Regions from separate parts of the Homo sapiens genome. Here regions 1, 3 and 4 are each reported to be linked to region 2. The links are microRNA targets in miRTarBase. Many come from high-throughput screens and were not tested one by one. Region 2 holds a microRNA gene; each other region holds the end of a gene's coding sequence.

Evidence for each region. Region 2 holds the annotated microRNA hsa-let-7b-5p (UGAGGUAGUAGGUUGUGUGGUU, at 939-960, opposite strand). A microRNA usually pairs through its seed, bases 2 to 8, with sites in the 3' UTR of a target mRNA and lowers its output. Matches are read on the target gene's strand: a 7mer-m8 pairs with bases 2 to 8, a 7mer-A1 pairs with bases 2 to 7 and ends in A, and an 8mer does both.
Region 1: the mRNA of ALDH7A1 is a reported target of hsa-let-7b-5p. The part of its 3' UTR that is shown has no 7-base or 8-base seed match.
Region 3: the mRNA of BIRC5 is a reported target of hsa-let-7b-5p. The part of its 3' UTR that is shown has no 7-base or 8-base seed match.
Region 4: miRTarBase lists TIAM1 as a target of hsa-let-7b-5p. The part of its 3' UTR that is shown has no 7-base or 8-base seed match.

The regions. Positions count from the first base shown.
Region 1 is chr5:126,540,657-126,546,712 of GRCh38, reverse strand. It overlaps ALDH7A1 (aldehyde dehydrogenase 7 family member A1), which reads left to right. Exons shown (of 18, transcript NM_001182.5): 17 at 314-389; 18 at 1,694-4,872. The coding sequence ends at 1,748. Among named protein-coding and RNA genes, the nearest start is that of ALDH7A1, 52 kb to the left of the region's middle. RefSeq lists enhancers at 2,266-2,315, 2,682-2,976.
Region 2 is chr22:46,108,610-46,114,650 of GRCh38, reverse strand. It overlaps MIRLET7B (microRNA let-7b), which reads right to left and starts at 965; the gene lies at 883-965. LOC124905135 (collagen alpha-1(III) chain-like) reads right to left here. Exons shown (of 2, transcript XM_047441696.1): 2 at 723-6,041. It overlaps MIRLET7BHG (MIRLET7B host gene), which reads right to left. Exons shown (of 5, transcript NR_110479.1): 4 at 5,298-5,384; 5 at 723-4,887. MIRLET7A3 (microRNA let-7a-3) reads right to left here and starts at 1,902; the gene lies at 1,829-1,902. It also overlaps MIR4763. RefSeq lists an enhancer at 3,341-3,874.
Region 3 is chr17:78,223,103-78,226,102 of GRCh38, reverse strand. It overlaps BIRC5 (baculoviral IAP repeat containing 5), which reads right to left. Exons shown (of 4, transcript NM_001168.3): 4 at 468-2,638. The coding sequence ends at 2,549. Among named protein-coding and RNA genes, the nearest start is that of TMEM235, 7.0 kb to the left of the region's middle.
Region 4 is chr21:31,116,232-31,122,287 of GRCh38, reverse strand. It overlaps TIAM1 (TIAM Rac1 associated GEF 1), which reads left to right. Exons shown (of 28, transcript NM_001353694.2): 28 at 1,451-3,870. The coding sequence ends at 1,920. Among named protein-coding and RNA genes, the nearest start is that of KRTAP19-8, 81 kb to the right of the region's middle.

The sequences.
Region 1 (6,056 bases), not on the chromosome of region 2:
GCACGGTGGGGTTACAGGCATGCACCACCACGCCCAGCTAATGGGATTTTTTTTTTTTTTTACCGTTTCTTTCTGTTTCCATTTCTTCTTAATTCCTTATATTTTATTTTCCCTCTTAATTCCTTTTTTCTGTTTGTTTTGGTCTCTTGGTCTCTGTCTTTGATTTGTTTGCAGGGGAGATATTGTGGGCTAAATGTAAAGTAAATAATCAGGTTGTTCTGGTGTCCTTTTGGTATCTTCTTTTCATTGATACCAACTATGAGCCCACATGGAAACTGCTCAGAAGATATGATATTATTTTTTATTTCTCTAGGAGGAGAAAAGCACACTGGTGGTGGCAGGGAGTCTGGCAGTGATGCCTGGAAACAGTACATGAGAAGGTCTACTTGGTAAGAAAAGGCTTTGGGAAGATAGGTTTGGGCTTAAAACCCTTGGGAATGGGCTTTTACACTTTCCTACTGTCTGTGCTGTCTTTGTGCAGTGTCATTTGATTTGATTTTTCCAGCATTCCACAGCTGTCTCCTCTAAGTATCTATTTGGTGCTATTTTTCTAGCCTTCTTGTCTAGCTTCAGCTAGTGCCCAGCACCCAACAATGAAATGGTCTCGTGCGTGGTTTCTGTATTTTTAGTAGAGTTGGGGTTTCTCCATGTTGGTCAGGCTGGTCTCGAACTCCCGACCTCAGGTGATCCACCCGCCTTGGCCTCCCAAAGTGCTGAGATTACAGGCGTGAGCCACAGCACCCGGCTAATTTTTGTATTTTTAGTAGAGATTGGGTTTCACCGTGTTGGCCAGGCTGTTGTTGAACTCCTGACCTCAGGTGATCTGCCTGCCTCGGCCTCTCAAAGTCCTGGGATTACAGGCATGAGCCACCATGCTGGGCTGTTTCTTGCACTTTTGAGGGCACACTTTTTTTTTTTTTTGAGATGGAGTCTTGCTCTGTCACCCAGGCTGGAGTGCAGTGGCCTGATCTCAGCTCACTGCAGCCTCAGCCTCCGCCTCCCAGATTCCAGCGATTCTCCTGCCTCAGCCTCCCAAGTAGCTGTCATCACAGGCCTGCACCACCATGCCAGGCTAATTTTTGCATTTTTAGTAGAGACCGGGTTTCACCATGTTGGCCAGGCTGGTCTTGAACTCCTGACCTCAGGTGATCCACGCCTGCAGTGGCTCATGCCTGTAATCCAAGCAGTTCAGGAGGCTGAGGCAGGTGGATCATTTGAGGTCAGGAGTTCAAGACCAGCCTGGCCAACATGGTGAAACCCCGTCTCTACTAAAAATACAAAAATTAGCCAGGCGTGGTGGTGCACAGCTAATCAGGAGGCTGAGGCAGGAGAATCGCTTGAGCCTGGGAGGCGGAGGTTGCAGTGAGCTGAGATTGTGCCATTGCACTCCAGTCTGGGTGACAGAGTGAGACCCTGTCTCAAAACAAAACAAACAAACAAACAAAAACCACCACCAACAAAAAAAACCATGTATGGTATGTCTTTCCAGATTTTTATGTTTCTGTCTTTTTTCTTTTAAATAAAACGGGATCCATACTAACATTGTCTTTTATCTTAAAGGTTTGTCTTAAAAAGTTGTAACTTGGAGATCTTGCCTTGTTAATATATACAGATCTGCTACATTTTAAAAGTGGGCATGAAAATCTTCTGTTATGTATGTACTGTCATTAATTCTGTTATTTTTTCCCACTAGTACTATCAACTACAGTAAAGACCTTCCTCTGGCCCAAGGAATCAAGTTTCAGTAAAGGTGTTTTAGATGAACATCCCTTAATTTGAGGTGTTCCAGCAGCTGTTTTTGGAGAAGACAAAGAAAATTAAAGTTTTCCCTGAATAAATGCATTATTATGACTGTGACAGTGACTAATCCCCCTATGACCCCAAAGCCCTGATTAAATCAAGAGATTCCTTTTTTAAAAATCAAAATAAAATTGTTACAACATAGCCATAGTTACTAAAAGATGAGTTAGGTGGATTTTTATTATGTCAACTAGTTGTACATGGCTTTTTAAAAGTTAATGATTATTTTGTAATTAGAAAAAAATAGTACGTACCAGGGTAGGAATTTGGGAAAATACAGAACCGAGGAGAAAACAGAAGTCTTTGCAGTAGATACAGGGTGTCTCCTGACCAAGTGAAGGATTCAGGGGCGGGGGGTGAATATTGCTTGACATTACCCACCTATGGCATGTGTTGGATGTCGTGTGATTGAAAGGGGGATGCATTCCCCTGTATGCTTGGACCACAGTTCAGTATTCATGTGGAATAACTTGCAGTGCTTAAAATGACAACAGGCATTCATCACAGTTATGGCTCTTGCTTATGAAGGCTGTGTCAACTTGGAAGAGATTTCTGGGGTAGACAGATTTTGTTCCTGTGCTGGAGTCTGCCACCTGCTGGAGGACTCTGAGGCCAAAATTGCCCGTGCAGAGTTGTATAGAAAATGCGTCTGGAGGCTGGGCAAGGTGGCTTACGCCTATAATCCCAGCACTTTGAGAGGCCGAGGCGGGTGGATCAGTAGAGGCTAGGAGTTTGAGACCAGCCTGGCCGATATCGTGAAACCCCGTCTTTACCAAAAAATACAAAAATTAGCCCAGTGTGGTGGCAGGCACCTGTAATCCCAGCTATTAGGGAGGCTGAGGCAGGAGAATTGTGTGAACCCAGGAGGCAGAGGTTGCAGTGAGCCTAGATTGTGCCACTGCCTGGGCAACAGTGAGATCCTGTCTACAAAAAAAAAAAAAAAAAAAAGTGCATCTGGATTTTTTTATACAACCTTAGACCACCTTCTTTAGCTTTAGGCGTCTGCGGTTGCCCTTGGATCTGTTCTCAATCCTCAGTGTGTGTGGCAGCATGTGGTCATAGAGAGCTGGGCAAAGTTCACTTTCTCTTTGCTGACAGTCTCACCTTTTCTCACTGGGAAGCTGCACAGGAGCCTTTGGGCTGGTTCAGCCCAGAGGCCCCTGTTCTCCTGCCTTCCTGGCATTCTCTGCTCCCCTTCTGCATGGCACCCCTCTACTCCTGCCAGGTTAGAATGGAGCAGAGGCCTTTGAACAAGATGACATTTGTAGACAACCTGATCCATCAGGATGTGGAGAGATCTGGACAAATGGCAAATAATTTGGGGTTGAATTATGGCCCAGAGAAGTAAGCAAATGAAAAACTAAACAATTATAAATGTATCTGGGAAGCAAAGGTATTCATAATATGTCCCATGGCCAGCTGCGAGCAGTATTTAACTAGACATGCTGTTGTCAATATTGAACATGAATCAAGCCAAATACTGATATAGCTATTGAGAGAAGGTTGGCAGGAAGAAATCATGGGTGAGGGTATGTGGGAGTGATAATCTTAGCTATAGATTTTAGGTAAAACTGATTCTGAAAGCTTTCTTTGAAACAAATTTATAATTTTTCTTCTACATGTTTCTAGCACAAGGACTCAATTTTTTTTGGTTATAATGTTCATTAAAACATATGCCTTCAATTTGTTCCTCTTTGTTCTTTTTTGCTGATTTAGCAGATATAAATCACTTGTTAGTATTTTTAACTATCCAAGTTAAAATGTACATTTGTAAGTGTTATTACTGGTCTTATATTTGAAGGTGCAAGGGGTCTTGTGCTGCTCATTACTGGTTATCTTGAGCATTTCATAACTGCTGCCTCCTCCTAAATCCTGTGTTCCAACCGCTACTGCTGGCAATGCCCAGCCTCCATTGTGGATGCGGGGAATTGTGTTCAGCATGCTTGCTTCTGCCACGGCACTAAAGCCTAACTTGCTTAGGATCTTGCTGTACTTGGAGAGAGCATCCATTCGCTGAGCCTAGCAGCCAGGCTCTTGTGACTCCCTGGGAAGTGGGTGAAGACCTGGCTCCTGGCTGCAGCAGTGAGGAGGCAGGCCCTCCAGGTGAAGACTTCTCACAATGGAGGGAAGGCAGTTTTCTCAAAGGAAATTGAGTGCTATTATGTACTCTGCTTCCTACTTTCTCTTTCAGGGTGGGAATCTGTTAAGCCTCCTCTCTCTCTTGCTCTGCAACCACAGAACACTTCTTTTTTTTTGGTGTCTCAGTTTTGCCCACACTGGAGTGCAGTGGTGCAATAGTGGCTCACTGCAGCCTCCAACTCCTGGGCTCAATCTATCCTTCCACCTCATGCTCCCCAGTAGCTGGGACTACAGGTGCATGCCACTGTGCCCAGCTGATTATTATTTTTTTTTGTAAAGATTGGGTCATACTACATTGCTCATGCTCGTCTTGAACTTGTGGCCTCAAGCGATCCTCCTGCCTCAGCCTCTTGAGTTGTTGGGATTACAGGAGTGTGCCACCATGCCCAGCTCTGTGGAAAATTCTCTGTGGCATTCTGTCTCCTGAAAATGCTGAAGGGACCAAGAGGGCTCTGTGTCCTTCCTCTTCTCTTCCCTGGCACTTTCAGACCATTTTCTTGTTGCCTTCATTCTAACAAAGGTTGCAGATTGGAAAGCTGATTTGGAATGCTTTTTAAGTGTTTTCAGTTTCAATATTTTTATGAAATTCCTATGGTCTCCAACAAACTTTTTTTTTTTTTTTTTTTTCTACACCTGGAGCTTATCCTGCAGAAGCTTCCTGCCAATGATTGTTTTGGAGGAAATTAAAAGAAAACCAAACGAAACCTCTCCTATCCAAGGGGAAGAACTTTATCCCCATATTGATTGAATATAGGATTCTAGATTTAAAATGTTGTAGGCAGTTAGAGTTTGCTCTTTTTTTTTTTCTATTGGAAAGGTCCACAAATGTTTTATTGACATTTTTGTCTTTAATCCATTTGGATTTGGGGTACATGTTACGATTTGTCTACGTTAATTTCCCTTTTAAAAATAAAAATAATTCCTCAACTCCAATTAGACAATTGGGTTGTCCTTTTCACACTGATACCTCTTTTATAGTACACTGCATTCTTACATATAACAGGATCTGTTTTTAGCTGTGTATCCTGATTCAGTAATTGGTATATGTGTGTGTGTATATAGATAAATAGAATGCCATTTCCCTGTGCAGACGGAAGGGCAAGCTTATTCCCTTTTCTGCGACTACATCTCCTGTCAGGTGTCGCCTCTGCTGTGGCTCTATAGGATTCTGTTAGATAGTGGTGGTCATTGCACAACTCTACAAATATACTAAATGCTACTCAATTGCTCATTTTAAAATGGTTAAAATGGTGAGTTTTATGTTGTATTTTACAATAAGAGAAAAAAACATACAAAGCAAATTAAGCAATAAAAAGGGCAGTTACTAACTCCAGGGAAAATAACATTTGATTCTGTGATCTTTTAAATTTCTTCTACTTAAATTGTTTTAGAGTTCTACATATATTAGCCATGTGACCTGCAAAAAGTAACCTAATCTCTTTGAACTTCATTTTCTTGTCTGTAACGTGGGTTGTATCAGTTCGGTTTCTTTGTGGCAAGCTGCGGAAACCAATTATGGCTTTAGCAAACATGGTCTGTTTTGGAAAGCCCAGATCCAATTTGCCTCTCCAGAACCACTCTCTGACATTCTCCTGCAGTGTGTCCTTAGGGACTGATCTCTACGGTCCACTTCATCTGGGCTTGCTTTATCCTCTGGCTTCTGATTGTGTTTGGCCAGTGGTAGAAAATCAGAGCAGAAAAAAAAATGTCAGAGTATTAATTTTCCCACTCCTTCCCTGCCAGTCTGTGGTAGTTACTGTCTTTTTTTTTTTTTTTTTTTTTAAGGAAAATGTACACAAAGCGTGTTTATTGGGATGATTTCTCATTCATCCTGATCACGGTTGCTGCTTCCTCCTAAGGAACATTCTTCTGTAAGCTTTGCTTGTCCTTCTGTAGGCTGATAGGACAGTGGAACAGCCAACACACACAACTTTGGGCATGACGAAAGAGCATGGTGACTTGATAGCATCCTGGTCATTTCACATCCATGAAGAAGGAATTGGTTCGTCACCAGGAGCTTCTCATGTTTTCTGGAGAGGCATGAAGGAGATCCTTCTCTAGAGACATCTCGCTGGAAAGCTTATTCCTTTTTCTGTGTCTACATCTCCTGTTAGATG
Region 2 (6,041 bases):
AGGGCTGGGGTTGCCTGCAGAACCAAGGCAGGCCAGGAGGGCACAGGGGGGAATCTGGGCCAAGATTGTGGCCTGGGTCAACAGGAGGGGCGAGGATGGGCACTTGGGTGGGGGAGGTGTGGGCCCAGCTGTATCAGCCCCTCCCCACCAGGGGCTCTCGGTGCTGGGCCAGGCATGAACAAGCCCACCCCACATGCCCAGGGCGGGATCACTGGGCCCAGCCTACGGCAGCTGCTAGACGAGGGCCTGAGGCCTCCCAGGAGAATGGGTGCACTTTTGGGATGGCAGTCTGTCAGAGGAATTACGGGTGCCCTGGAAACTGTCCTGAGGGAGGACGGAAGGACAGGCACGTCCAGACTTTGGTCAAGGCACTTAAGGCACGGAGGTGGCCTCAGGAGCCAGGACTTGGCAGTGCTCTGAGCTGCTGACCTGGGGCCTTGGTGGCTGCCCCGTGGGGACCTCTCCACCGGGCCTGGGTCCCGGTGTTCAGCCCGCCTGGCTCAAAGGCAGCACGAGAGGGCAGAGAACGGGCTGGGCCTGGGATCCTGAGCCCAGGGTACAGCACGGAGCCAACTGAGGACTCTGGAGGCACCGGGAGGCGTGAGCAGACAAGTCTCATGACCTGGAACAGCTCGTGGCCAGGGGCCTCCACACTGTCCCGCAGCAGACGCGCCCCAGAGCCCAGTCCCTGGGCTTCCAGAATGAAAGGGGCCAGTTCCAAGTTCATGGTCAGAACAGCTTTATTGAATCTAGCTCCCAGATGCCCACCCAGCTTCGGCTCAGGCCCCCTGCAGGTCACTGAGGTGGGGGGCAGCCCTCCCGTGGGGTCGTGTCACTGAGGTAGGGGGCGGCCCTCCCATGGGGTCGTGTCACTGGGCTCCTCAGGGAAGGCAGTAGGTTGTATAGTTATCTTCCGAGGGGCAACATCACTGCCCTGAAACCACACAACCTACTACCTCACCCCGCCAGGCCCGGCCTTGCACTGCGGGAGGGCCCGCCGCCCCCCGCCCAGCACCAGCCCCTGCCTGGCGGTCCTCAGTCACCAGAGCAGGAGGGCTGGGCAGGCGCAGGGCAGGAGGGACAGGGGAGATGGCACCCCAGGAAGGGGCAGCTGCTGCTGGCTGGTCTTGGGAAGTCCCTGGCTCTCTGGGCCTCAGTTTCCCCAGGTACAGAGGAGCCACTGTCTGCCTTCAGATTGTGCCATGTGGGACCCAGTGTATGCAGAGCTGTTCCTCTCACTTCCTGCTCAGGAAAGGTGCCTTGGCCTCCCTTCCTCCACAGGCAGAGGCCCTGCCACTGAGCTGGCCAGGCTGGGGCACGTGCTGGGAACCTGGGGTGATGGGCAACGCCAATACTCGCAGCCCTGTGACCTCCAAACGTCTCGGCCACCCCTGGCCCCACGGTGCCTTCTCCTGGTGCTCAGTGGAGGGTACGGCTCAGGGCCACCCATGAGCCTGGGCCTGATGGCGGGGGGAGTGTTGGGGAGTGTTGGGAGACAGAGGTCAGACAAACAGCTGCGTGGATCGCCTCTCTCAGTGCGGCTGGGGCAGAGGGTGGGGTCGGCTCAGCTCTCCTCTGCCCTCGATGCTCCACACTGCATCTCCTTCCATCCTCATTTGCCTCCATTTTACAGAGGAGGAAACTGAGACCCAGAGAGATCAGGGGCCTGTCCAAGGTCACACAGCAAGTGGCACCTAGGCCTGTCAGACTTCTCAGTGTAGGCGGCCCCTGCCCCCGACTGCTGCCAAGGCTGCCCCCAAACCTGGCCCTGCCCGCTCCCAGCCAGGGTTCCAGACGCTCTGTCCACCGCAGATATTACAGCCACTTCAGGAAAGACAGTAGATTGTATAGTTATCCCATAGCAGGGCAGAGCCCCAAACTATACAACCTACTACCTCACCCCAAAGGGCAGTCGGTCTTGGTGCCGATGGGACTCCGTGGCTTCCAGAGGCACCTCCTGGGGACGCGGGAGGAAAGAGGGCTGAGGAGAACAGGGGCTCGAGGCTCGGCAGGCCACACGCACCAAGGGCACAGGGATTCTGGCGGGCAGGCGCGGTGGGCGCAGGGGGCTGGGACGCCGAAACCCTGGGAGTGGGGACATTGTGGCCAGCACCAGCAGGGACGGGAGCCTGCAGGAAACCACCAACCAGAGAGGGACGAGGAAGAGAGAAAGGAGGAGGGAGGGAAAGCCCTGGCGGCATTTTGCGACGCTGTCACAGGCAGCCGGCTCCCTCTCATCTGGACAGGAGTGGCCATAATGTCCCCAAGGAACTCTGCACTGGAGACCCTAGGAGGAGGGCTGTCATCTGTCGAAGGCCAGCAAGACACAGGCATGCGAGTGCCCACCCTGCTCGGCCCCCTCCCTCCCCGCACAGCGCCACCAGAAGCAGCACTCGTGGCCCCCAGGCTGGCTGAGTAGCGGCTTCACGGGCGTGCCGTCTCCTCCCACTGGGCAGGCAGGCATCCCTCCCCAGGGGCCCTGGTTCTGGCCCTGCTGTGCAGGCTGGCCTGAGCTGACCGCACTGCAGGAGGTGGCGGGAAGGTTCTTTCCTTCCTTGAGGGAAGTGGCCTCTAGGGGAGAGCAGCTGGGGGGGTAGTCACAGACCCTCAGGTCCACCCAGGGTCCAGTGCCTGTCCCTGCGGGTGCTGGCACACTCAGTGCCCTAGCTTGGGACGCACAGGGCTGGGACAGAGTGTAGCATGAGGATGACACTGAGAGGGCCTCGGGGCTCCCCTAGCAGGGGAACGTGGCGAGAGACGGGCCTCCCTAAGCCCCGCCTATCCTGGGCCTGGTGCAGGGTCAGCCTCAACAAATGCTAATTGTGGCTACCACCTTCCTGGGGAAAAGCTGAGGGGGCAGATACGACTGTCAACCCCTCTTAAACAGGTGAGGAGACCGAGGCCCAGAGAGGCAACGTGACCTGGATGTCACACAGCCAAGGGGGCAGCAGAGTGAGGTCCAAATGTCCTGCTCCCTGCCAAGCTTTTTTTTTTTTTTTTTTTTTTTTTTTTGAGATGGAGTCTCACTCTGTCCCCCAGGCTGGAGTGCAGTGGCGCGATCTCGGCTCACTGCAAGCTCCGCCTCCTGGGTTCACGCCATTCTCCTGCCTCAGCCTCCCGAGTAGCTGGGACTACAGGCGCCCGCCACTACGCCCGGCTGATTTTTTGTATTTTTAGTAGACAGGGGGTTTCACCGTGTTAGCCAGGATGGTGTTGATCTCCTGACCTCGTGATCCGCCCGCCTCAGCCTCCCAAAGTGCTGGGATTACAGGCATGAGCCACTGCGCCCGGCCTGCTTCCTGCCAAGTTAAACGGCATGCTAGCTCTCAGCTCCCCATGCCCAAGTGGACTTGAAAGGTCTACCCCAGCCCTCCTTCCACAGCCCATCCTGAGCAGGCTGCCTACTCCAGGCAGGCCCCAGGCTGGGCTGGACCATTTAATCCTCACAGCCCTGGTAAGGCTGAGATCACGGATCCCACTTCATAGTGGAGAAACTGAGGCTCAGGGGGTGCTGAATCTCTAGCTCTAGGTGTCTTTGCTCTCAGAAGTTGGTCGGGGAGGGGGTCTGCTTGCTCTCTGGGCACGTGTCCTACTCCCTCCCGAGGGGCACTGGAGCAAATCCCAGGTCCTTAGCCAGCAAGGAGACCGCTGAGGCTCACACCTGGTGCCGCCCACCCAGAACTGGAGACTGAGATGCTGACTCACCCAGGAGTGGGGACCAGGAGGGCCCCGATGCAGCCCGACCCTCCTCTGTCCCAGCATCATCTCGCCTGGGGTCGCGAAGACCCCGTGTTCCCTCAAGGCCTCAGAACAAAAGCGGTATGAGAGGGTCTGGGGGTCCTGCTCCCCTGCTCCAATTCTGGGTCCCCTGGCTGGTGGGCAGGACCAAGATGTCCCTAAGGACTGTCCGGGCAGAGCCAGCCAGGGTGGGGTGAGGGCTGAAGGGACAGTGGCTGAGGGTCTCCTTGGACCCTCCCAGCTGTGGTGAGTGGCCGGAGGGGGAAGATCAAGGCCATCCCAGCTCCTCTGAGCTGAGGCTGACTCAGGCTGTCGCACACCTCATGATCAGCTCCCAGTCAGGTGGTCCACCCTGAGTGTCCCTGCGTCTGCCCCCATCTGCACCCCCGGGAGGTGCCTTGGGGGAGGCTGTGGGGTGGGTTGCACCCTAAGCACGCACTCTGGGCTCCTGACTTAATCTCTGAGACCCCCACCCCCTCAGGCTGGACTGGCCACCTGGGCTGGCTGGGTCCCCTCACACCTACTGGGTTCTGACTCATGGTCCCAGCAGGCTAAAAAGGGGGTGGGGCAGGACAGCCCAGTGGGCGGAGCTGTGAGAATCCAGGCCGGCCTCTGGGCTATGCTCTGGGCAGGTCTCATGCCCTCGTGAGCCGTGGTCTCCCCACTGAGGCAAGGGGTCAGCTGCCAGGGCCCCCGTCATCAGCCATCGGAGCTGGAGTGCAGGTGGGGACCACCATACTGATTCCAATGGCCCCAGCCTGGCCCCCACAGGTCCCCCAGGCCAGGACTTCAGCCTCCTAGAGCCTACAGTGCTCACCATGGGGGGACCCAGCCCACAGGTCGGGCTCTATAACGTGTGGCAGAGACAGAATGGGAGACAGGCCCCTAGTCCACCCTGGTCGTCACCACAAGTGCCCTCCCCCTGGGCCCCCAGCCCCACCTGGGAGAAGCAGATGTGACTCAGTTTCCCTCATTCGGCCTTTCTCGTTCTGGGCTAGACTTACCCAGGTGGCATCTTGAGTCATCCTGGGCGATGGCAGGTGGCCTCGGGGCATGAGGGCTGCACTCCAGGATGCCCGGTGGCTAGGTGACAGGAGAGGCCAGCGCAGGAGCTTCTGTCCCCAGGGAGTGCTCGAGGCAGGCTGGGCCCTGCAGACAGGCGGTGCACACAACAGAGCCCAGGGCCAGAGAGTGAGTCTTCAGGGTGTGGAGGTGAGGCTGAGCCTCTTCCACTCAGACGCCCTGCAATGAACCACGGCTCCTTCAGGCCCTGTCCAGCCTGAGGGGTGCACCACCAGGGTCAAAGATCACCATGCCCCAAGTGCACAGTGGGCAGATGAGGTGGGCCAACGGGGGGAGCTTGCTGGAAGAGTGGCGGGAAGACAAGAAGAGACATGGCTTCAGGGGAGGCCACAGCCTGGGCGAAGGTTTGGCTGTGAGACCATCAAGTCCCCACCTAAGGACCTCTGTGCCTGAGGGTGGGGCCTGGAGAGGACCGGGAGTGGCCTGGCTCTGAGATAGCCCTCCCTCCCTATCAGACCTCCCACGGCTCCTCCTACCTCCAGAGCCAGGATGGCAGGAGGCCCAGCTCACTGTGAGGAAGGCCAGCCCCAGGCAGGGGCTCCAGGTCAGCGCCACTTCTTGACCTGTTGGGTTTTAAAAACAAAAGTGACAAGTGTCAGCTCTGGAAGAGACGTGGCCTTACCCAGCTCTGAACCCCTTTGTGACCTTGGGCCTTGCCCAGCCGTCCCGCACCAGAACCGACACTCCAGCCTGGCCCGTCTCTCGCCTAGTGGCTCACCCACCCCTGTAAGGGCCTGGATGGAATGTGGAATGGCCTCCGTGGCCAGCCCTGTGTTGGACAATGCCAGGTCAGAGGGGACCAAGACCCAAGCCTGTCCTTGAGTGGTCAGTGGTCATGTCCCCCTGCTGGGAAGCCTGTGCCCTGCCAGGCTGGTGCCTGGATGCTCTAGGGCCCAGAGGAGGGCAGCAGGATGCACAGGGGGGACAGCCTGGTGCTGCTTTCCCGGGTGCCTGGCCTGTCAGCAGGTGGCTGGACTATGGAGGGAGGGGTTAAGCCCCCATTGCACCGAGGAGGATGCTGAGGGTCCAGGGGGGCTGTGGCTTCCCCTGGGACCCAGGACGAGGAAGGCTTGGGGTTCTCCCACGAGCGGAAACCCCCGGGAGGGGCCCACAGCATCCAGTCTGGGGCTGCAGGGCTTCGGCAAGGTCTTGTCCAGTGAATGAAAACTTCACCTCACGCCAGCCCATTCTGGCAGGAGTGCCCTTGCAGGGTGCGCACG
Region 3 (3,000 bases), not on the chromosome of region 2:
CCCTCCCAAGCTGACAGTGTCCTTCAGCAGTGAGGGCCCAGCTCTGGAGCCAGATTGCCTGGGTTCAAATCCCAGCTCTAAAAGTTACTTATTCGACTATCCTGGACAAGTTATTTCATTTCTACAAGTCTTCATTTCTGCATTAAAAAATGGTAGCTAGGTCAGGCCCAGTGGCTCACGCCTATAATACCAACAAGTCGGACGCTGAAGCAGGATGATCACTTGAGCCCAGGAGTTTGAGACCAGCCTGGGCAACAAAGTGAGATTCCATCTAAACAAAAAAAAAAATTTTTCAATTAGCCGGGTGTGATGGCGTGCGCCTGTAGTCCCAGCTACTTGGGAGGCTAAAGTGGGAGGTTCACTTGAACGCAAGAATTTGAGGTTGCGGTGAGCTGTGGTCATTCCACTGCACTCCAGCCTGGGAGGGCAAGGCCTTGTCTCAAAAAAAAAGAAAAAGAAAAAAAAAGTAGATAAAACCACATGAGACTTTATTGGCAATTGTGAGTTACTCTTTCCACATGGCGACAGCCTGCAATGGGGGCTCCAGTTTGGCTTGCTGGTCTCTTCTGGGCAGCGGGCACTGCTGTCTCTACTTTCCAGGATGGCAGTTGGCCCGAGGGGCTCTAACCTGCCATTGGAACCTCACCCATAGCCCAGAAGCCTCATTCACAACCCTTCCCAGACTCCACTCCAACTTAGAGAACCTGAAAAATGGACATGTGGACATGTATCTGAAAGAAAGTCTAGGCGGTTGCACTTAGACAAGGGCCTACGGCTTTATTAACAGATGTCGAGGAAGCTTTCAGGTGCTGGTAGCCATGAGGGTCTGGTTTTAAGGATGGCCTTTAAGGAAAGGCCGTGGCAGGCGGGCTGAGAGGGGCGGCTCCAGCTCAGCCCTGCCCACAGCACAGGCTCACAGAAGCCGAGATCCACATCACCGCCTGGCATGCAAAGGAGTTGAAGACAAAACCATTTTTTTCCAGCTTCTCTACAAAGCCAATTACTAAGCAACAGTTATTAAAGTGAAGTATCCATTTACAGACTGACACAAATATCAAAAATAAGCAGCTTAGATGAGTACAGAGGCTGGAGTGCATTTTCTGCTAACAAAAACCACTGTGATATTCTCCCAGTTTAGAGGGAAAAGTCTATCTCAGGCCGACTCAGATGTGGCAGAAATAAGTGGGTCTGAAGTGCATTTTCAGTTGTTTCTGCCCGGAAGGAGCCCGGATGATACAAACAGGTCTGGGGTTCGTGGCTCTGGCAAGCGCCCAGAGACAACTGCGTCTCTGCCAGGACGCTCATCCTCACTGCGGCTGTCTGGGCAGATGGCTGTTGGCAGGCTAGGGACGACGATGAAAAACTGACAATATTTTAAAAACCCAGTAGGGTCCACAGCAGTGTTTGAAATGACAGGCTTTTTATTTCTCAGGAACAGCCGAGATGACCTCCAGAGGTTTCCAGCGAAGCTGTAACAATCCACCCTGCAGCTCTATGACAGGGAGGAGGGCGAATCAAATCCATCATCTTACGCCAGACTTCAGCCCTGCGGGAGCTGCTGCCTCCAAAGAAAGCGGGGACCTGGGCGGACTGCGTCTCTCCCCCGTGTGGAGAACGTGACAGATGTGAAGGTTGGGCTGACAGACACACGGCCTGCAGCAGCCCAGCCAGTCCCCCACAGCATCGAGCCAAGTCATTTAAAAAGGATTTAGGCCACTGCCTTTTTCTGAGGGAGGAGCGGCCAGCATGTGCCCCGCGGCTCACTGGGCCTGTCTAATCACACAGCAGTGGCAAAAGGAGTATCTGCCAGACGCTTCCTATCACTCTATTCTGTCTCCTCATCCACCTGAAGTTCACCCCGTTTCCCCAATGACTTAGAATGGCTTTGTGCTTAGTTTTAATTGTAGTTTGTGCTATTCTGTGAATTAACAATTCAAACAAAATAAGAAAGCCATGTTGTTAAACAGTAGAGGAGCCAGGGACTCTGTCTCCATTCTCTCATCACACACAAGTCATGCATCTACCAAAAAAAAAAAAACAAAAAAACACAACAACAAAAAAACTGTCCTCTGAGGAGGCACAGGTGTGACAGATAAGGAACCTGCAGCTCAGATTCAACAGGCACCTGCCAAGTCCACACTCAGGACTGTGACAGCCTCAACAACATGAGGTCCAGACACATTCACTGTGGAAGGCTCTGCCCACGCGAACAAAGCTGTCAGCTCTAGCAAAAGGGACACTGCCTTCTTCCTCCCTCACTTCTCACCTGGTAAGCCCGGGAATCAAAACAGCAAAAATGAGCCCCCAAAAAAGAGAGAGAGAGAGAGAAGCAGCCACTGTTACCAGCAGCACCCGCTGCACAGGCAGAAGCACCTCTGGTGCCACTTTCAAGACAAAACAAGAGCACAGTTGAAACATCTAATTTGAAAATGTTGATCTCCTTTCCTAAGACATTGCTAAGGGGCCCACAGGAAGGCTGGTGGCACCAGGGAATAAACCCTGGAAGTGGTGCAGCCACTCTGGGACCAGGCAGCTCCGGCCAGAGGCCTCAATCCATGGCAGCCAGCTGCTCGATGGCACGGCGCACTTTCTCCGCAGTTTCCTCAAATTCTTTCTTCTTATTGTTGGTTTCCTTTGCCTGGAAATAAAGAATAGACACATGACACTGAAACCAGAGCTTCCCAGTCACATCCTGTAGATAAGATGACAAAGGAAAAAACAATCAGGGAACACTGAGAGAGCACCTAAATAAACTGGGCACTGGGCTAGGCAGATTCCCAGCTACCTGGGACAAACATCCTGATTCAGCTCAACTCCCTCTAGTTTAAGCTGCCTCCTAATCATCGAATAACAGGAAACACTGACGGAGTGCTTGGTATGCACCCAGCACCACTCTACCTGCTTCCTCCATTAACTGATTTATGTTCACAGTGATCCTGCGCTGGGTGCTCCCATATCTCTACTATACAGGTGAGGAAACCGAGGTCCAGGCTGAAGGAG
Region 4 (6,056 bases), not on the chromosome of region 2:
TTGTTTGTTTTTTTTCCTATTTTCTATTCCCTTTTTCCATTTTGCCTGGAAATGGCTTTTATTCCCATCCTCAACCAACAGTAGTGTCCATTTGTTCCACAGTTTTAGATGGCGGAACACTCAGGAATAGTGATGGACACGCAGGGGTCTGAAGCAGAGGATGGCTGCCATGAGAGCCAATTCAGCCCCTCGTTGACCACTCTAACCCTGTGCCTGCTGGGTTCGAAGTCAAGGCTGCATTTGGCAGTAATTGAGACACGAGGCATCTTCTAGCAGCACTGAAGCAATTGGATGGTTCTGGGGCTTAGGTTTCAGGAAAGCAGCTCCCAGTTGGCGTTGAGACTCTTCCCCTCCACTGGAAAGCCCGTGTTGCATTTCACCTTTTCGTGTCTAATGCAACAACCGCTTCACTCTCGAGGGAGAAGCAGAAGCCTTCCCTGTGAGCAGTCTCGTGTATGTGTGTGGTGGGATTGTTGGCTTGATCGGATGGTGTCTTTTGTTTGCTTGTTTTTAATTCTGGCTTCCTAGAGGGCAGTAGGTGAAAGAATGAATTTTTCTTAACTGGTAGTCACTTTATACAGCACTTTGTTGATCAAACTGCTTGGATGTCATCGGTTTTTTATTTCTCATTCCAATGAGGCACTGATATGTTAATTGCTTTGGAGAAGAATGAGTGATACACAGACTGTAATTGGGGGAGACTAAGGCACACATTTGCTTAGCTTCCTAGCTCATGTGGGACTTTGTCAGAAAGAAGACAGGGAAATAACTGAAGATCCCATGTCTTTGAGAGCCACTCTTTTTCATAGGCTCTCTAAGAGTGACGTGGTGCCCTTAATCTAACTGCAGATCCCAAGAAATGTTATGTTCCAGTTCCCAGAAAACAAGTAACTTACACTGGTGCTTCTGCCTCCTTGATGCACATTCTACAAAGACAGCAAAACCATAGATGCACCCCCACCCTTACTAAAGACCTATTCCAGCTAAACAACCCTGGGACAGCCCTGGGGATCTTCATAGCACTGGGCCATGGGACATGGCCAGGATTGAGGACACTAACTCACTAACTGATCCCCAAATCAGTGGTCTGTCTACTTGAGAGCAGCTGCTGTCTGTGTTACCCATCTCTTAGGTGCACAGGCTAGAACAGTAGATTATTTCAGAGGGAGTTGAGTGCCCCTTTGCCCATAACCTACAACCTCTCCTGTGTGCCCCGGTTCCCCCTTGCCCTTGCATCAGTTGCTAGAACATCCTCTAAGTCCAGATACCTCGACAAGGTAAATGCTCCATGACAGATTGGTGATATGTAGACTTTAAGCCCCAAAAGACATCAAGGCATTCAATGCATACCGTTTTGGTTTTTATTTTCTCCTGTCCTTTGCTTTCTGGATTTTCATCTCACGTAAAGCATGTGGGGGTTTTATTTTTATATTTTTGTGTGTGTGTGCAGTGTCTGCCCCAAGCAAGTCTCTTGGGAGGAGGAGGCGGCGGCTGGCTCGAAACAGGTTTACCATTGATTCTGATGCCGTCTCCGCAAGCAGCCCGGAGAAAGAGTCCCAGCAGCCCCCCGGTGGTGGGGACACTGACCGATGGGTAGAGGAGCAGTTTGATCTTGCTCAGTATGAGGAGCAAGATGACATCAAGGAGACAGACATCCTCAGTGACGATGATGAGTTCTGTGAGTCCGTGAAGGGTGCCTCAGTGGACAGAGACCTGCAGGAGCGGCTTCAGGCCACCTCCATCAGTCAGCGGGAAAGAGGCCGGAAAACCCTGGATAGTCACGCGTCCCGCATGGCACAGCTCAAGAAGCAAGCTGCCCTGTCGGGGATCAATGGAGGCCTGGAGAGCGCAAGCGAGGAAGTCATTTGGGTTAGGCGTGAAGACTTTGCCCCCTCCAGGAAACTGAACACTGAGATCTGACTGCGTCACCTGCCCCGTAGAGAATGTGTGTAGATACTTCCTGCCCTAACTCTGCCCACCCTCCTGTACCGTCGACAAGAATGTCCCCTTAGGTCGCGCTCTTGCACACACGGTTTTGGCAGCTGACTTGGTTCTGAAGCCATGTAGCCACCCAACTTTGTCATTTTCAACAACATCAGAAAGAATTGATCAGAATCCCAAATAAGCTTGAGTCCTATCTTCTGTATATTACTAAGGGCTTTTATTTATTCTCAATAAATCAGGGCCTGAACAATTAAAAGAAAAAAGATTCTATAGCACTGGAAAGCAAATCACCCCAGGAGTTAACGGATGTACAACAGATTAATTTAAGGGATAGTAGCACACACACGATCCTTCTATCTGAAATCAGTCTCCTAGCTGGGGAAACCTCTTTCACACACAAAATGAAATGTGTACAGCTTGCCGTGTTCTGACTGTACCCTTCCCTCTTCCATGTCTGAGAATCTCCGTGTATTTTAAGAATGTGTGAGGAGAGGGTGGCGATTCATGTTTCAATGAGCCTCTTTTTTTTTTTCCTTCCTGTTTTGGTCTATGGCTGGTCTTACTCTGTGTCCATGTTCGGAAGCTCTAGTTTTGCATAGAATTATAGAGATGCCAAACTCTTTGAAAAGAGATCCAAATTTATCGCTTGAGAGAAAGAAAAGAAACACTATTTTTTGTATTTTACCTGAGATACAGGGGCACAAATAGATGAGAATTTTACAGTGTTAGTGTATGTATCCCTGAGCCTAAAAAATGAGGATATAACCTTTTACAGAGAGAGTGAGGCGTGGTGGTTTTATATTTATATATGAAAGGCCAGCAAGCTCATGCGAAGGATATACTTTTCTTCCAAAAAGCGGATTTTTTTTTTTTAATGTTTGAATCTATATTTGAGATGGGAGTTTGGTTGGATTAAACATGACACCCCGGTGGGCGGTGTGTGTGTCTGTTGCACATGGCAGGGAGGGGAGCCTCCTTCTCATGGGGTTGCCATGGTGATCATTGGTTTTTCCATCAAAATTGCATCTTCATCCATAGATTACCTTCCCCTTCCCTGACAGTCCATAACCAAACCTTTAAACAGAACAACCTCTTTAAAAACTTCTCTTGTGTTTAACACTTTCTTCATGCCAACGAAACAGGGTAAACATGCTCAAAACATTAACAGTCTAAACAGATATCCAAATACTAAGAAGAAAAACAAGTTATAGCACTTTCAATTTTTTTTTTTTTTTTAAAAAAAGGTTTATAGCTTTTTCTTTTCCCATGTCACAATGTCCACTTCCTAAGAAGGGTTTAAAATACTATGAAAACTTTCTTTTTGGGGAAAATATCTATTTGGTGTTTGACACATCAGTAGGTACTTTAAAGACCTGAATTTTATAGTAGCTTTAGGAGTTATATTTTATAAAAATCAGTTATGACTTTATATTTCCAGACAATAGAGAGTTCAGTACATCATGCTCTTGTGCCTCTGCCTGCTTTTCCTGCGTTCCCACCCTGTATTCCCCCCGCCTTTCGGGTTTCCAGGGCTTCGAGCTTGATCTTTTGAAAGTTTTATTCTATTAAATTTTTGCTATATCTTCTGGTTTTCTGAAAAAGCTTTAGAATGGTTTCTATACCCTTTGTATCACTGCATTTTTCCATATCATCTCCGGTTCGATCGCGTCCAGATGGAAAACGGAAGCAGAGGCTTCTAATCGTCGCATTTACTGGCTCCAGTGCAACACATCCATCTGAAAACACTCGGAAGTCTGGTGCTTGGAGAGGGTGCCATTGTCTCTTGTACATAAGGTCATGACGTGTCTATGTCAAAAGTTCTTATATATTTCTTTTATAAGCTGAAAGAAGGTCTATTTTTATGTTTTTAGGTCTATGAATGGAACGTTGTAAATGCTTGTCAAACAATAAAAATAACGAAAAGTGTCTGGGCGGTTCTATGCCTTTTTGGATGGGAGGATGAGTATGAATTGTTGGCGGGAGAGCGGCCGTGGGAGAAGATTCCTGGGAATGCCATTTATTGAAATAACTCGTGATCATCAGGAGAACGCTGTTGTAGCGCTTGAAGTTTTAACAACAACAAAAGGTGCATTACAGTTGCATGGCATCTTGACCTAACGTTGCCCCTACTGGGCACTGTTTCTTTTCCAGTCTCCTGCCTATCCCGATGGGAGCAGGCTGGGGGGGTTCCTGTGAAAATATTGGGGTGAAGTGCAGAGCTCTGACTGGCCTGACTGAGCTCTTGAATCACTCCACATTTTATCACCGGGGGCCTGCTGCCTGAGTCTTTCACAGAATCACCAAACAAGGTAAATACAGTCTTGGGCTGCCTTTCTCTTCCTGTCAGAGTCCCCAGATCTGAGCCTCTCGAGTCCCTTACAAACCTTACCCATCAATGTTACCCCATCCATCCCTGCCCTCAGTGAAAAGATTGTCTCCTGTCACTAGAAGAGCCTCTCCCTGGCGCATGGGGAGCCCTGTGGTGTAGCTACTTGCTCCTCACAGTGGAGGTCCTGACACCAGCAGCGTCGGTGTCACTGGGAGCTTGTTGGAAGTGCAGAAAACTGGGAGGCAGGAGGAGCACTTGAGGCTAGAAGTTCGAGACCAGCCTGGGCAACATAGTGAGACCCCCATCTCTACGAAAAATAAAATACTTAGCTAGTCGTGGTGGTTCACACCTTTAGTCCCAGCTACTCAGGAGGCTGAGGTGGGAGGTGAGCTCAGGAATTTGAGGCTTGCAGTGAACTGTGATCATACTGTTGCACTCCCGCCTGGGAAACAGAGACCCTGTCTCAGAAAAGAAAAATGCAGAAACTTGGGCCCCACCCAGAGGCACTAAACCAGAACTTCCATCTTAACAGGATCCTCTGATGACTCATCCATGTTCATGTTTGAGTCACATTCGTTTGGTAGCCTCCAAACATTCTGATGTTGAGCAGTGATTTGGAGCACATTCCTCTTTATTTTAAATATATTCAGGCATTACAGCAGCAATATGTACATCTTTAAGACACAAGATGTCTCTCTGTAGCCAGTGCATCCGACTTGGGGGATGACTGAAGCCAGCTTTAACACCTGCTCCATGAAGTTATTCCAGCAGTTTGTACTCTGGTGTAAATGAGATTTAGCAGTTTGGGCTGCTTTCCTCACCAATAGCTGAGCCTGTGTGTGCAGAGGAAATGAGTGCTCAAAGTCAACTATAGAGGAACAATCATGCCTTTCCCCACTAGTTTTCATTTATTTTCAGGCTCATCTCCCTCCCACCAGGCTGGCAGAAAACATCCTCAGTTTTCCTCTCCCTTTCAGTTCTTAAGGTTTGGGGGCGGGGTGCTTCCTTCTGCAAAGATAACTGTAGCAGTGACCAGTGTCCTCATCCATCCACGAGCTCCTTCACGCGTGATGGTGGGCTCTCTAGTGTATCCTTTTGCTCACCCAGGATTCTTCTGCAGCCTGGTCCCCGGTGTTCTGTCTCCTCTCTGGGACGTTGCCAGGATGCCTCCCCCAAGTTCTGGTCCCTCCCCTTCCACAGAGCTCTCCTGACTGTATCCCCAGCCAGGGGCTATTGCCTTTTTTTTTTTTTTTTTTTGAGAGGGAGTCTCACACTGTCACCCAGGGTGGAGTGCAGTGGCGTGATCTCGGCTCACTGCAACCTCCGCCTCCCAGGTTCAAGGGATTCTCCTGCCTCAGCCTCCCGAGTAGATGGGATTATAGTCGCCCGCCACCACGCCTGGCTAATTTTTTTGTATTTTTAGTAGAGACAAGGTTTCACTATGTTGGTCAGGCTGGTCTCGAATGCCTGACCTCGTGATCCACCCACCTCAGCCTCCCGAAGTGCTGGGATTACAGGCATGAGCCATCGTGCCCTGCTGGCTATTGCCTTTTCTGTGTGTGTGTGGTTATGGGGATGAGGACAGTGAAGCTGGGTTGCAGTGGGGAGCCCTTACCTTGTGTCTTTTTGCAAATTTTTTGTTGATACCCAAGTTTTATAGGCAGTTCTGCTTTTTGATGCAAACCTATTCTGGGATAGGGAATCCCTGTGACAGTTGCCTTAGAAGGGAGGTGTTGAGCAGGTTGGGGGGAAGTCATGAAAATACAAGGAGAGAAAGAAATAC